Linked DNA regions of Homo sapiens: region 2 is linked to region 1. A link means that fine-mapping ties the variant in region 1 to the expression of a gene that starts in the linked region. Tissue or cell type: whole blood. Region 1 holds a variant in brackets; the other region holds the start of a gene. All regions are shown on one strand. Distances are from middle to middle.

Region 1 (8,107 bases):
GCCAGTTAACAAATACGAGTCCTTCAAATACAAAAAAGACTGTGAAAGAAAATAGAACAGATCAATGAAACTAAGAATTTGTTCTTTGAAAAGATAAACAAAACTGACAAACCATTAGCTAGACTAGAAAAACGAGAGAATACTCAAAGCAATAAAATCAGAAATGAAAGAGGAAATATTGCAACTAATACCACAGAAATACAGAGGATCATAAGAGGCCACTATAAACAATTACAAGCCAACAAATTGGATAACCTAGAAAAAGCAGATAAATTTCTAGAAAAATGCAACTTACCTAGAGAAAGTCAAGAAGAAAGATAAAATCTGAACAGAACAATACTGAGTATGGAGAGTATATCAATAATAAAACATCTCCCATCAAAGAACATCCCAGGACCAGAAAACTTCATTGCTGAATTCTAACATTTTAAAAAATAATAATACAATCCTTCTGAAATTCTTCCAAAAACTTGAAGGAGAAAGAGTATTTCCAAACTCATTTTAAAAGATCAGCATTATTGTTTTTTTTTTTAAAGTGATGTTCCCCTTCCTGTGTCCATGTGTTCTCATTGTCCAATTCCCACCTATGAGTGAGAACATGTGGTGTTTGGTTTTTTGTCGTTGCAATAGTTTGCTGAGAATGATGGTTTCCAGCTTCATCCATGTCCCTACAAAGGACATGAACTCATCCTTTTTTATGGCTGCATAGTATTCCATGGTGTATATGTGCCACATTTTCTTAATCCAGTCTATCATTGTTGGACATTTGGATTGGTTCCAAGTCTTTGCTATTGTGAACAGTGCCACAATAAACATATGTGTGCATGTGTCTTTATAGCAGCATGATTTGTAATCCTTTGGGTATATACCCAGTAATGGGATGGCTGGGTCAAATGGTATTTCTAGTTCTAGATCCTTGAGGAATCGCCACACTGTCTTCCACAATGGTTGAACTAGTTTACAGTCCCACCAACAGTGTAAAAATGTTCCTATTTCTCCACATCCTCTCCAGCACCTGTTGTTTCCTGACTTTTTAATGATGGCCATTCTAACTGGTGTTAGATGATATCTCATTGTGGTTTTGATTTGCATTTCTCTGATGGCCAGTGATGATGAGCATTTCTTCATGCGTCTGTTGGCTGCATAAATGTCTTCTTTTGAGAAGTGTCTGTTCATATCCTTTGCCCACTTTTTGATGGGGTTGTTTGTTTTTTTCTTGTAAATTTGTTTGAATTCATTGTAGATTCTGGATATTAGCACTGGGGCCTGTTGTGGGGTGGGGGGAGGGGGGAGGGATAGCATTAGGAGATATACCTAATGTTAAATGATGAGTTAATGGGAGCAGCACACCAGCATGGCACATGTATACATATGTAACTAACCTGCACGTTGTGCACATGTACCCTAAAACTTGAAGTATAATAAAAAAACAAAAACGAAAAAATAAAAACAAAAATAAAAAGGCAAACAAGGACACTATAAGAAAAGTATGGGTCAACCAATATCCCTGATGAACATAGATACAAAAGTCCTCAAAAAAAAGTGCTAGCAAACAGAATTTAGCAACACATTAGGAGAACATTTACCATGATAAAGTGGATTTATCCTCCAGATGGTTCAGCATACACAAATCAAATGTGATAAACCACATTAACAGAATGAAGGATAAAAAAAATAGCTATCTCTATATATGCAGAAAAAGCATTTGACTAAATTCAAAATCCTCTCATGACAAAATCTCTCAACAAATTGGGCGTAGAAGGCATGTACCTTAACACAAAACAGGACATATATAACAAGCTCACAGCTCACATCATACCCAACAATGAAAAAGTGAAATCTTTTCTGCTAAGATCAAGAACAAGACAAGGATATTTATTCTCACTACTTCTATTCAACTTATTTCTGGAAGTCCTAGCCAGAGCAATTAAGCCAAATAAAGAAATAAAAGATATTCAAATTGAAAAGGAAGAAGTAAAATTGTCTCTGTTTGATGACATATTATATATAGGAAACCCTAAAAACTCCACCAAAAAGCTATTAGAAATGATAAATGAATTCAATAAAATTGCAGAATTCAAAATCAATGTATAAAACTCAGTAGTTTCTTTACACTGACAACAAACTATATGACAAAAATAAAGAAATCAATCTCATTCACGGTAGCATCAAAAAAACCGTATTTTTTTTTGTTTAGGAGCACATTTAGGATTGTACTTAGGAGTACATTTAACCAAGGAGGTGAAAGATCTGTATTCTGAACACTATAAAACATTGATGAAAAAATTGTAGATGACATGAATACATGGAAAGATATTTTATGTTCATGGGTAGGAAGAATTAATATTCTTAAAATGTCCTTACTGCCCAAAGTGATTTATAGGTTTAATGCAATATTTATCAAAATTTCAATGTCATTCTTCACAGAAATAGAAAAAACAATTTGAAAATTTATATGGAACCACAAAGGACCCTGAATAACTAAAGGACTCTTGAGCAATAAGAACAAAGCTGAAGGCCTCACAATCTGACTTCAAAACATATTACAGGAAAAGAACAAAAGAAGGAAGAAGAGGGTAGAGGAGAAGTGCAGCAAGGGTGGAGGGAGGTGCCCGCGCTGGGTCGGAGGAGCAGGAGGAGTATGGAGGGAAGACTCCTGGGTGGCATGAAGCTCTTGCACCTCTAGGCACTGCCCAGCCCTGTGTCAGCCAGGGCTGAACCCCCACAGGATAAGGAAGCCTGTGTGTGTACCAACAATCAAAGCTACATCTGTGACACAACAGGACACTGCTATGGGCAGTCTCAGTGTTGTAACTACTACTATAAACATTGATGGTTCTGGTTGGCATGGACCATCACCATCATCCTGAGCTGCTGCTGTGTCTGCCACCACAGCCAAGCCAGCCCTCAAGTCTAGCAGTAGCAACATGAAATCAACCTGACTGCCTATCCAGAAGCCCGCAATTACTCAGTGCTACCATTTTATTTCACCAAACTATTTATTACCTTCTTATGAGGAAGTGGTGAACTAATCTTCACCTGTTTCCCTCCCTGTCTGTCCATTGTAGATGAGCTCTGAGCCGTTTTCCTGTGAAGATTCTTTGAATTGTGGCCATTCTATTCACATGAACTCTCACATCTGGAGCACAGATGGCCCTCTCAAGGTAATTTATTGTATGCATTGACTGTTTACCAAACAAATGTCTTACTATGTACTCAGGTATATTCAGCAGCATTGTCGACTGCAGTCCCCAGTGCTTGCCAGAAGATACTGTATTCAAAGTAGAAGTTTCACAGTGATGAGCAATCACTGCAATTTTCCCATTGCTCCATGGACTCTCGGAGGCCGGTGTTCTGTTCCCTGTAAATAGAAATGTACTCTGAACCTTTCTGCCTCCCTCAGCTGTTCCTAGTCCTTGGTATCAGCCCCTGGAGATGTCCACAACCACTTAGGACAAAAGGCAAAAGTGGAATTTCAGACAAAACTTTGATAGGATCTTCAGTGATAAACTTGGACTAACTGTGGCCCAGGTATCAGCACTCCCAAGAATTGCCAGGAGGAAGCTTTGGCAGACACCACAGGTATAGCAAGGCCTATCTCCCTCCGCTGAATCCAACAGGGGCAAGCAAGCTGGCATGTGGCTTGAGGTGACCCGAATATGTCAGCACCCCTCAGATGTCCTTCTTTGCACTTTTAAAAAAAATCTCAGAATTTGCTGGCAACATGGCCAAATAGGAACAGCTCCAGTCTGCAGCTCCCAGTGAGATCAATGCAGAATGCAGGTGATTTCTGCATTTCCAACTGAGGTACCTGGTTCATCTCACTGGGACTGGTTGGACAGTGGGTGCAGCCCAC[G/A]GAGGGTGAGCCAAAGCAGAATGGGGCTTCGCCTCACCCGGGAAGTGCAAGGGGTTGGGGGAATTCCCTCCCCTAGCCAAGGGAAGCCCCGAGGGACTGTACCATGAGGAACGGTGCACTCCACCCAGAAACTATGCTTTTCTCACGGTCTTCACAATCCACAGACCAGGAGATTCCCTCCAGTGCCTCTGCCACCAAGGCCCTAGGTTTCAAGCAGAAAACTAGGCAGCTGTTTGGGCAGACACCGAGCTAGCTGCAGGAGTTTTTTTTTTTTCATGCCGCAGTGGCAACTGGAATGCCAACAAGACAGAACCATTCTCTCTCCTGGAAAGGGGGCTGAAGCCAGGGAGCCAAGTGGTCTGGCTCGGCGGGTCCCACCCCTACAGAGCCCAGAAGCTAAGATCCACTGGCTTGAAATTCTTGCACAGCAGTCTGAGGTTGACCTAGGACACTCGAGCTTGGTGGGGGGAGGGGCTTCCACATTGCCAAGGCTTGAGTAGGCAGTTTTACCCCCACAGTGTAAACAAAGCCACCAGAAAGTTTGAACTGGGTGGAGCCCACCACAACTCAGCAAGGCCACAGCAGCCAGACTGCCTCTCTAGATTTCTCCTCTCTGGGCAAGGCATCTCTGAAAAAAGGGCAGCAGCCCCAGTCAGAGACCTATAGATAAAACCCCCATCTCCCCGGAACAGAGCACCTAGGGGAAAGGGCGCCTGTGGGCACAGCTTCAGCAGACTTTGAGCATCCTTGAAAAGCCTGATGGCTCTGAAGAGAGCAGCAGATCTCCCAGCACAGCATTCGAGCTCTGATAAGGGTCAGACTGCCTCCTCAAGTGGGTCCCTGACCCCGTGTATCCTGACTGGGAGACACCTCCCAGTAGGTGCCAACAGGCACCTCATACAGGAGAGCTCTGGCTGGCATCTGGTGGGTGCCCCTCTGGGACAAAACTTCCAGAGGAAGAAACAGGCAGCAATCTTTGCTGTTCTCCAGCCTCCGCTGGTGATACCCAGGCAAACAGGGTCTAGAGTAGACCTACGGCAAACCCCAACAGACCTGCAGCAGAGGGGCCTGACTGTTAGAAGGAAAACTAACAAACAAAAAGGAATAGCATCAACATCAACAAAAAGGACAGCCACTCAGTGACCCCATCAGAAGGTCACCAACATCAGAAACCACAGGTAGATAAATCCACGAAGATGGAGAGAAACCAGAGCAAAAAGGCTGAAAATTCCGAAAACCAGAACGCCTCTTCTCCTCCAAAGGATCACAACTCCTCACCAGCAAGGGAACAAAAGAAAACTGGATGGAGAATGAGTTTGACGAATTAAGAGAAGTAGGTTTCAGAAGGTAGGTAATAACAAACTCCTCCAAGCTAAAGGAGCATGTCCTAACCCAATGTAAGGAAGCTAAGGACCTGGAAAAAAGGCTAGACCAATTGCTAACTAGAATAACCAGTTTAGAGAAGAACATAAATGACCTGATGGAGCTGAAAAACACGCCATGAGAACTTCATGCAGCATGCACAAGGATGAAGCACTGATTCGATCAAGCGGAAGAAAAGATATCAGAGATTGAATATCAGCTTAATGAAATAAATCAAGAAGACAAGATTAGAGAAAAAAGAATGAAAAGAAATGAACAAAGCCTCCAAGAAATATGGGACTATGTGAAACGACCAAATCTACGTTTGATTGCTGTACCTGAAAGTGTTGGGGAGAATGGAACCAAGTTAGAAAACACTCTTCAGGATATTATCCAGGAGAACTTCCCTAACCTAGCAAGGCAGGCCAATATTCAAATTCAGAAATACGAAGAACATCACAAAGACACTCCTCAAGAAAAGCAACCCCAAGACACAAAGTCGTCAGATTGAGCAAGGTTGAAATGAAGGAAAAAATGTTAAGGGCAGCCAGAGAGAAAGGTCAGGTTACCCACAAAGGGAAGCCCATCAGACTAACAGCAGATCTATCAGCAGAAACTCTACAAGCCAGAAGAGAATGGGGGCCAATATTCAACATTCTTAAAGAAAAGAATTTTCCACCCAGGATTTCATATCCAGCCAAACTAAGCTTCATAAGTGAAGGAGAAATAAAATCCTTTACAGACAAGCAAATGCTGACAGATTTTGTCACCACCAGGCCTGCCTTAAAGGAGCTCCTGAAGGAAGCACTAAACATGGAAAGGAACAACTGGTATCAGCCACTGCACAAACATACCAAATCGTAAAGACCATTGACACTATGAAGAAACTGCATTAACTAACAGCAAAATAACCAGCTAGCATCATAATGACAGGATCAAATTCACACATAACAATATCAACCTTAAATGTAAATGGGCTAAATGCTCCAATTAAAAAACACAGACTGGCAAATTGGCTAAAGAGTCAAGACCCATCAGTGTTCTGTATTCAGGAGACCCATCTCACGTGCACAGACACAAATAGGCTCAAAATAAAGGGATGGAGGAATACTTACCAAGCAAATGGAAGGCAAAAAAAAGCAGGGGTTGTAACCCTAGTCTCTGATAAAACAGACTTTAAACCAACAAAGATCAAAAGAGACAAATAAGGGCATTGCATAATGGAAAAGGATCAATGCAACAAGAAGAGCTAATTATCCTAAATATATATGCACCCAATACAGGAGCACCCAGATGCATAAAGTAAGCTCTTAGAGACTTAAAAAGAGACTTAGACCCTCACACAATAATAGTGGGAGACTTTAACATCCCACTGTCAATACTAGACAGATCAACGAAACAGAAAGTTAACAAGGATATCCAGGACTTGAACTCAGCTCTAGACCAAGTGGATCCAATAGACATCTACAGAACTCTCCACCCCAAATCAACAGAATATACATTCTTCTCAGCATCACATTGCACTTATTCTAAAATTGACCACATATTTGGAAGTAAAACACTCCTCAGCAAATGCAAAAAAAAAAATGAGAATTATAACAGTCTCTCAGATCGCAGTGCAATTAAATTAGAACTCAGGATTAAGAAACTGACTCAAACCCACACAACTACATGTAAACTGAACAACCTGCTCCTGAACAACTACTGGGTAAATAAAGATATTAAGGCAGAAATAAATAAGTTATTTGAAACCAATGAGAACAAAGACATAACATACCAGAATCTCTGGTACACAATTATAGCAGTGTGTAGAGGGAAATTTATAGCACTAAATGCCCACAAGAGAAAGCAGGAAAGATCTAAAATTGACACCCTAACATCTCAATTAAAAGAACTCAAGAGGCAGGAGCATACAAAAAGCTAGCAGAAGACAATAAATAACTAAGATCAGAGCAGAACTGAAGGAGATAGAAACACAAAAAAACCTTCAAAAAAAATCAATGAATCCAGGAGCTGGTTTTTGAAAAGATCAATAAAATAAACAGACCACTAGCCAGACTCATAAAGAAGAAAAGAGAGAAGAATCAAACAGATGCAATAAAAAATGATAAAGGAGATACCACCACTGATCCCACAGAAATACAAACTACTATCAGAGAATACTATAAACACCTCTACACAAACTAGAAAATCTAGAAGAAATGGACAAATTCCTGGACACATACACCCTCCCAAGGCTAAACCATGAAGAAGTTGAATCCCTGAATAGACCAATAACAAGGTCTGAAATTGTGGCAGTAATTAATAGCCTACCAACCAAAAAACAGTCCAGGACCAGATGGATTCACAGCTGAACTCTACCAGAGGTACAAAGAGGAACTGGTACCATTCCTTCTGAAACTATTCCAAACAACAGAAAAAGAGGGAATCCTCCCTAACTCATTTTATGAGGCCAGAATCATTCTGGTACCAAAATTTGGCAGAGACACAACAAAAAAAAGAAAATTTCAAGCCAATATCCCTGATGAACATCGATGCAAAAATCCTCAATAAAATACTGGCAAACCAAATCCAGCAGCACATCAAAAGCTTGTCCATCACAATCAAATCGGCTTCATCCCTGGGATGCAAGGCTAGTTCAACATACGCAAATCAATAAACATAATTCATCATATAAATAGAACCAATGGCAAAAACCACATGCTTCTCTCAATAGATGCAGAAAAGGCCTTCGACAAAATTCAACAGCCCTTCATGCTAAAAACTCTCAATAAACTAGGTACTGATGGAACGTATCTCAAAATAATAAGACCTATTTATGAAAAACCCACAGCCAATACTGAATGGTGAAACACTGGAAGCATTCCCTTTGAAAACCAGCACAAGACA
Region 2 (8,107 bases), 230 kb after region 1:
CTCATCAGGTATGCCAGGTGGAGTCAGCGTGAGCCTGTAAGAGCTCCCCGCTCTCATCTGCACCCTAGTGCCAGGTGGGGTCAGTGTGAGCCTGTAAGAGCTCCCCACTCTCATCTGCACCCTAGTGCCAGGTGGGGTCAGTGTGAGCCTGTAAGAGCTCCCCGCTCTCATTTGCACCCTAGTGCCAGGTGGAGTCACTGTGAGTCTGTAAGAGCTCCCCGCTCTCATTTGCGCCCTAGTGCCAGGTGGAGTCACTGTGAGCCTGTAAGAGCTCCCCGCTCTCATTTGCGCCCTAGTGCCAGGTGGAGTCACTGTGAGTCTGTAAGAGCTCCCCGCTCTCATTTGCGCCCTAGTGCCAGGTGGGGTCAGTGTGAGCCTGTAAGAGCTCCCCGCTCTCATTTGCGCCCTAGTGCCAGGTGGAGTCACTGTGAGCCTGTAAGAGCTCCCCGCTCTCATTTGCGCCCTAGTGCCAGGTGGAGTCACTGTGAGCCTGTAAGAGCTCCCCCCTCTCATTTGCACCCTAGTGCCAGGTGGGGTCAGTGTGAGCCTGTAAGAGCTCCCCCCTCTCATCTGCGCCCTAGTGCCAGGTGGAGTCACTGTGAGCCTGTAAGAGCTCCCCCCTCTCATTTGCACCCTAGTGCCAGGTGGGGTCAGTGTGAGCCTGTAAGAGCTCCCCGCTCTCATTTGCGCCCTAGTGCCAGGTGGAGTCAGTGTGAGCCTGTAAGAGCTCCCCGCTCTCATTTGCACCCTAGTGCCAGGTGGGGTCAGTGTGAGCCTGTAAGAGCTCCCCGCTCTCATTTGCGCCCTAGTGCCAGGTGGGGTCACTGTGAGCCTGTAAGAGCTCCCCGCTCTCATTTGCGCCCTAGTGCCAGGTGCAGTCAGTGTGAGTCTGTAAGAGCTCCCCCCTCTCATCTGCACCCCAGGACCACAAGAGCTGTTCTCTCAGGTGGACAATAGAGAGATGGGATCAGAAGTCATTGCTTCCCTCAAGAAACTTAACTATCAGAGGATGAACCAAATGCTCATTAGATGATATTTAATATTAGTGAAGAAAAACTTGATAAAAACATGTCATGGGACTGCTGACTTAATGTTTGGTAAATTGCTGATTTAAAATACATTTCTTTACCTTTCTTTTCTGCAGTGGTTGGAGAAAAGGAAAAGATAGATAATGCTGTAAACGTGCGAACAAGAGACAACAAAATTCATGGAGAGATTTTAGTAACTTCTGCCATTGATAAACTGAAGAATCTCAGGAAGACACGGACACTCAATGCTGAGGAGGCCTTTTGAAGTCCTTCCCTGATATTTGCTTCTGTGTAACTTTGTTTTGACCCTTAAAAATGTATTTTTCTTAACATGTTAGTACTTCTACGACTTTGGAGCCACTGATGGGTCCACTCATGGCCTCAGCTGAGAAAGGAGACGATGAACGTGTAGCTGACATGCACGAAGTTTAATTTACTCATGTCCACGGGGGACGTTTAGAGGGCACGTGGGAAATTTTCCAGCAATCAATGCCTTGAGAAACTTAAATGGGGAAATATTATTCATCGAGAAAGTGAAACAAAACACTAGGAAATGATTATGAAATGTTAGTGATTTTCAAAAGATGGGCTTCAAATAAAAGTCTGCAGAGTTTTTTTTAAATAGGAGGGAAAATCTTATTTTCTAATATGTCTCAGGTATTTTTATGACTTCTACTAAAATTCACACTGAAACTTTATCTTCTAAACTGGAATCATTACTTAATTTTAACTAACCAACAACCACAAAAGCAGCAGCTACTGCTAAATATTGGATTACTGACAAAGGAATTCAGTTTTGTGGAATCTGGTGTTTGCACTATAGGTTAAGAGTTGCCATTTAAATGTTTCTTATTCATAATTAGGTTTTGTTCCGCTTTAGAAAAAAATAAATTCCCAAATGAATTGCATCAGTGTTTCCAGCGTTTCAGCTGTGGGCTTCTACCACCACTAAGCCGCTCACCTAGAGTTGTTACTTTTTTGATGGGATGACATTCCATGGATTTATGTACTGAAATGGATTTCAGATTTTAAAGAGAGGAATGCTCTACGTGCTCAGAACTGAATTAAAATGGCATTATGTCAATAGAGAATTCAGCTACCAAACAAGAAGTATTGTTTATTTTGCGATATGCTGTGAAATTCAAAAGAAATGTAAGAAATAATCTCTTTTCAATATACTGATCATTTAGTTAACTTCCTGAGGGATGTGAACAGTGAAACAGTTGGCAAACAAAACAATATATATCAGGCTTGTGTAGTAGTATAAGGTGCAGATTGTGTGATATGATTTTTATTATTTATTTTTTGAGACGGAGTCTCGCTCTGTCACCCAGGCTGGAGTGCAGTGGCGCGATCTCGGCTCACTACAACCTCCGCTTCCCGGGTTTAGGCGATTCTCCTGCCTCAGCTTCCCCAGTAGCTGGGACCACAGGCGCGTGCCTCCACGCCTGGCTAATTTTTTTGTATTTTTAGTAGAGACAGGGTTTCACCGTGTTGTTAGCCAGGATGGTTTCGATTTCCTAACCTCGTGATCCGCCCGCCTGGGCCTCCCAAAGTGCTGGGATTACAGACGTGATTCACCGCCCCCGGCCGTGATACGATTTTTAAAGCTAACATTCAGGGCTTATGTGCCGGCACTTTTCCATGTATTTTTTAAAAAGTCATTCAGCAAACATGCACGTGAGGGGGTGGTAGTCAGAAGACCGCGGAATGAACGATCCCGAAGCACGTGGGTGGGAGGAGAGCACCTGTCACCAGCGCTTTCTCCCAGGTGTGCTGTGACAGAAACCGGCAAGGGTCTCCGCAAGCTGGGGCCTGAGCGCGGCTCCCCAGACGGCCGCGACCTTCCCCAGGCAGGGCTGGGCTCTGGACCCTCCCCTCACTTCCCAGCGCCTCGGGCCATCCTGCTTCTCCAGGCCTGAGAGGAACTTTCTGGAAGTGCTGCGTATCTTCAAGAGGCCGGCCAGAAGTGAAAGCCGCGGCAGGCCTGAGCGCCGGCCCCAGGGGAGGGGTCCCTCGGGCCCTCGTCGTCCCGGGGCCGCTTCCCCGACTGTAAATAAGTGTCTTTAGGATGAAACGCCACGCGATAGTGTCCTCGGAACCTTCGCACGAGATCCAGCACACAACATCCGACCACACACTGGGGCGGCCAGCCTCCCGCGTTCGCCCGCCTCTGCTCTTGGTTGCTTCGGGCGCGCATTTCGGTCCACGGATGACCTTTAACAGGTCTCCTGCAGTGGAACCAGGGGTGAGGGCCTCGTCCAAGGGCGTGAGGGGCGCGTGGAAATGGAACAACCTCCCAGGCTCGCATCCTCCTCGGGGACCTCCCAGAAGGCTCAACCGGAAGAAAACCCGCGACCCGCGCGAGGACAGCGAAAGCGCAAACGCCGGCCGCCAGGAGTCGCAGCGCGCCTGCGTCCAGTTCACGCTCCGGCTCCCAGGCGCGCCCCGCCCCCCGGCCCGGAAGTGCGCAGGCGCTGGCAAGATGGCGGGAGGGGTGCTCCCGCTGAGGGGCCTCCGCGCCTTGTGTCGCGTGCTGCTCTTCCTCTCGCAGTTCTGCATTCTGTCGGGCGGTGGTGAGTCAAAGGCTGGGTTCAGCGCCGGGTGGGGCTGAGTGGCAGCAGGGCCCCGGGAGCTGCGAGGAGGCCGGGCCCACGGGCGGACGCTGACGCGGGGAGGAGGCCGAGTGCCGGGCTCCGGGCCGCTTGTCGCTGCATCTGGAGTCTGGCGCCCTGGCCGCCCGGCCCGAGGCCGCCCCTCCGCTCCGGCGACACCGAGCCCGCCATCGCGGCTGCGGAGCCCTGGCACGGAGATGGAGCGCTTGGGGGCTGGGCCGGGGAGGCGGAACTGGAGCGCGATGTCATCCTTCGGTCCCTCGTTGCCGGCTGACCTGAACTGATGTCTACTCTGTTGACGTTTCGTCCCTAAGCTTTGTGTTTTCTGGCTGACCAGCCGTGAGGTTTTCATGAGCAGCTTATTGGCCTGGTGTAGACCCGCCGTGTTAACCACACAAAATAAGGTTTTCTTGTCCCGGGATAACGTGTTTCTCTAATTGTACGATCCTTAAATTTAGAGCAATCGCAGGCGCTGGCTCAGTCAATAAAGGATCCGGGCCCAACACGCACATTCACAGTAGTTCCCAGGGCAGCAGGTACTAGACGTTTTCTATTCTAGTAAATACATGTAGTTATCTCTAGTAGTTTCTCTTTGTTTTTATAAAAATTCCCTTTAGTATACGAAGTCACTTTCCATTTTTGAATATTTATTGTATTTTAGATTATGTGAATTAAGGGTAGATACACAGCCATTTTCAGTAGATAGTCTTCGTATTTATACCTTTTGACGTTTCTGCCTCCTCTCTTTTTCCAATCCCACGCTCATTTGTCACCTTATTTCTATTATTTTTCCACTTCATCCATCAAAATAACCTTCAGTCCGTGCTTCTTTCCCTTCAGCAAATTTCCTCTACTGCTAAAACCCTGTTCCTGATGTTGGAATATTAAAGGCTCCCTCAGGACTGTGGAAATGGAAGGATTACAGCGGGACTGATGGAGACTTGAAATCTAGATCTGGTTTTGCTACTGGGATCTTGAACAAATTATTTATCCTCTTTGGACCTTGGTCCTCATCTTTAAAGCGGTGGGGTTGGTCTGACGACCTAAAGTCATTTCTGCTTTGTGATTCTAAGTGTCCACCTTCCAGCCACATAGTCACGGGATCAAAAAGAGTATTTTGTAGAATTGTTCCTTAATACAGTGAGTAAAGTAGGACCAGTTTTAAACAAGCATTAGTGTGTTTTGCTAGGTGGAGGCTCTGACTATAATTTCATCACTTTAAAGTGACATTACTTCAGTGAATTGAAACTGGCAGAGATATTTTACTGATTCTTATTTGGATGTAAAAAACAGCAGTGCACTTGAATTTTAAACTCAGATTACTTTTTAGAGAAAGCACAAGAGTTCTTAACTCTTGCAGGCTTTTGAAAGCCCTTCTTTTCAGGAATACTTGCAATTTTGATCCTTTCAGTTGGTAAAAATACATTGCACACTCATTAGGTTGGTTGGAAATAAGTTGCAGCTTACTGAAGATGTTATTAAAGTAGAGAACTGTTTTGAACTTTGGTAGCGTAAAACTGTAAATATTATATTAGCAAATGTGGCTTATCGAAGTACCAGTGTGAAATAATGACATTTTAAAGTTGATGCCCTGAGGATGTCAGTGGCTTCATTTCTGAATTAGTGAATTCAGATGAAAAGAACACGGGATTGGAAATGGAGAGATTTGGGTTCTAGTTCCAGTTTTGCCACAGACTTCCTCTGTGATTTTGCAAAACCCTACTGTAAGTTTTTTTTCAACTTACAAAATGATAGTCTTTTTTTTAAGCCCTTAATGTATACCCAGAATTTTCTATACATTATTTGTATATGAGCACCTTTAGTTTTCACGGCCACGTGGGAGGCAGGAATGAAGTAATGTTTTACAAGTGTGGTGCTCACCAGGTCCCACAGCTGGCCGTGGGCAGAATTCTGCTTTAATTGCAGGTGTCTCTGACTCCAGTCCCATGCTTCTTCCCTTCCAGTGCAGTGTCTACTTGCTAATGATCACGTCTCTTAACCTTAGAAGATTGTTCTCTGTTATTCGAATCAGTATTATAGGAGAATAAGCTTCTCTCTTGCCTCTCACAGAAAGTACTGAAATCCCACCTTATGTGATGAAGTGTCCGAGCAATGGTTTGTGTAGCAGGCTTCCTGCAGACTGTATAGACTGCACAACAAATTTCTCCTGTACCTATGGGAAGCCTGTCACTTTTGACTGTGCAGTGAAACCATCTGTTACCTGTGTTGTAAGTACTGCAGCTTACTTATTCTAAATAAATTCATTGTAAACTTTAAGTTAGAAGAACAATTCAGACTTGATTATTGGGAAGAAATTCTGAAGAATTTTTATATTCTTTTATGATTTCCCTTTTGAGTATGTAAGCAGAAATAAATTAAAAAACCCAATAGACCTTTCCATATCAGCTCACTACTGTTTTAGTTATAATGATAACTGTCAAGCCAGTTGATGTCTGCTGGAAATGCACTTGACAGAAATGTTGCTTTGTAGGACTGGAGAAGATCTCAGTCTACTAGCATATCTGAAGCAAGTCTAATTCGTTCAGATGGATTCTGTGTTCTCAATAGTGACAGCTAGTGTACAGAGGGGGTGGCAGTGTCTTTCTGCCATAGATGAGCTTTTGAAGGGCCAGTGCTTATCTGTGGTGAGAAGATGGATTCAGTAAATGCCGGAATGCCTGGTAGCTCTCTAGAACAAAATTAAGTGGAACGCCTGTCTTATCCAGAATAAATTCCAGATAGTCCAAAGATGTAATGTGAAAAATGAAACCCTGAAGTACCACAGAAAACACCAGATAGTTGCTGTTATAATCCCAAAATGGAGAATATTTTTCTAAGTATGAAATAAAGTTTAGAAGCCATAAAATAAAGAATTGATACATTTGACTCCTAAAAATTGGAGATTTCTGCATGACCTAAAAAAAAAAGCATAAAGGCAAAAGACATGGCAAACTAGGAAAAAGCGTTTCTAGAATATGTGACAAATAATACAGTAATATCAGTAATATATAAACACTTCCTAAAACCCACACGGAAAAGATGACAGTCTTGTAGAAAAACAGTGTTAGGACATGAGCAGATGGTTCATAGGAAAGGAAATACAAATAGATATATAACATGAAAAACATATAAGTTTTCTCATAGTATTTAATTAATACATTTTTAACCCTTAGATTGGCAATTTTTTTTTAATTTGATTAACTCTGAGTTTGTGAGAGTATAAGGGTCAGATGCTCATATCTTATTAATAGGTAATCAAATTGATCAACCTCTTGTAGGCGATTTGCCATATCTGTTAAACTTACACATGCACACAATCGTTGAGCTCGTAGTTGTACATGTAGGAATTTATGTTATAGATATCATTATACATGGATGCAGATAAGTGTGCTTATTTTTTAGCTGCATTGCTCATTAAAGCAAAAGATTCAAAAGAAGTGAAATGTCTAAGAACTGCTTAATTTATGGTACACGTGTAATAGAATAAACACCTTGTAGCCATTAAAAAGAACTAGGCAGCTCTAGAGGTAATGTACTGATAGATGTCCAAAATTAAGTGAAAGTATTGGGGAACATTAAATGTAGGTGACATAAATGTGCCTATGTGTAGAATCAGCTCTCTCTGGAAGCACAGAGCGTACTTGGCCTGGGGAGGGCAGGGGCTCCCGGCGGCTGGGCCAGACGAGGCCGGCTCACTTCTCACTCTCCTGTTGTGTCTTGACATGTGTTCCATGTACATGTGTCACCTACTTTTTAAAAAACCATTAAAAAAAGTGTGTTTTAAGCACATCACTGAAAATAGGCAGATGTAAACGTATTATTTTGCAGATCCAACTGTTTGCCTAAATCAAGTGATGCCTTACCCATATTTGAATGTTTTCCATAAAAAGTGGTTTTTGCATTGATAAGAAAATGAATAGTACTTGCTTCATCAGCGCATATGCCAAAGTTGGAACCATACAGAGAGAATTAGGATGGCTCTTCTGCAAAAATGACATGCAAATTTGTGAAATGTTAAAAAAAATAACAAACATGGGCCGGGCGTGGTGGCCTACACCTGTAATCCCAGCACTTTGGCAGGCCGAGGCAGGTGAATCACCTGAGGTCAGAGGTTGAGACCAGCCTGGCCAACATGGTGAAACCCCATCTGTACTAAAAATACAAAAATTAGCTGGGCGTGGTGGGGTGCGTCTCTAATCCCAGCTACTCAGGAGGCTGAGGCAGGAGAATCGCTTGAACCTGGGAGGCGGAGGTTGAAGTGAGCCGAGATTGCACCACCGCATTCCAGCCTGGGCGACAGAGCGAGACTCCATCTCAAAAAAAGAAAAAAAAATAATGTGTGTATGTGTATATATATGTATACATATATATACATGATGCTTCCAGAGATGTGTGACCACATAAAAATGATTTTGAAAAATATGCACTGCAATGTAATGTCAGGTAGAGTAAAAAGACTACAAA

The links. PIP is the estimated chance that this variant, and not a neighbour inherited with it, causes the effect.
Region 2: it holds the start of TM2D3, and the variant in region 1 is fine-mapped to the expression of TM2D3 in whole blood (INTERVAL, PIP above 0.99).

The regions. Positions count from the first base shown.
Region 1 is chr15:101,882,302-101,890,408 of GRCh38, reverse strand. It overlaps the pseudogene WBP1LP5. Among named protein-coding and RNA genes, the nearest start is that of FAM138E, 69 kb to the left of the region's middle. The variant G/A (reference allele first, on the strand shown) is at 3,857.
Region 2 is chr15:101,647,768-101,655,874 of GRCh38, reverse strand. TM2D3 (TM2 domain containing 3) reads left to right here and starts at 3,494. Exons shown (of 6, transcript NM_078474.3): 1 at 3,494-3,604; 2 at 4,102-4,179; 3 at 5,714-5,871. The coding sequence starts at 3,514. It overlaps TARS3 (threonyl-tRNA synthetase 3), which reads left to right. Exons shown (of 19, transcript NM_152334.3): 19 at 1,145-2,279. The coding sequence ends at 1,293. It also overlaps the pseudogene RNU6-807P. RefSeq lists enhancers at 2,200-3,090, 3,197-3,256 and silencers at 2,917-3,106, 3,347-3,906.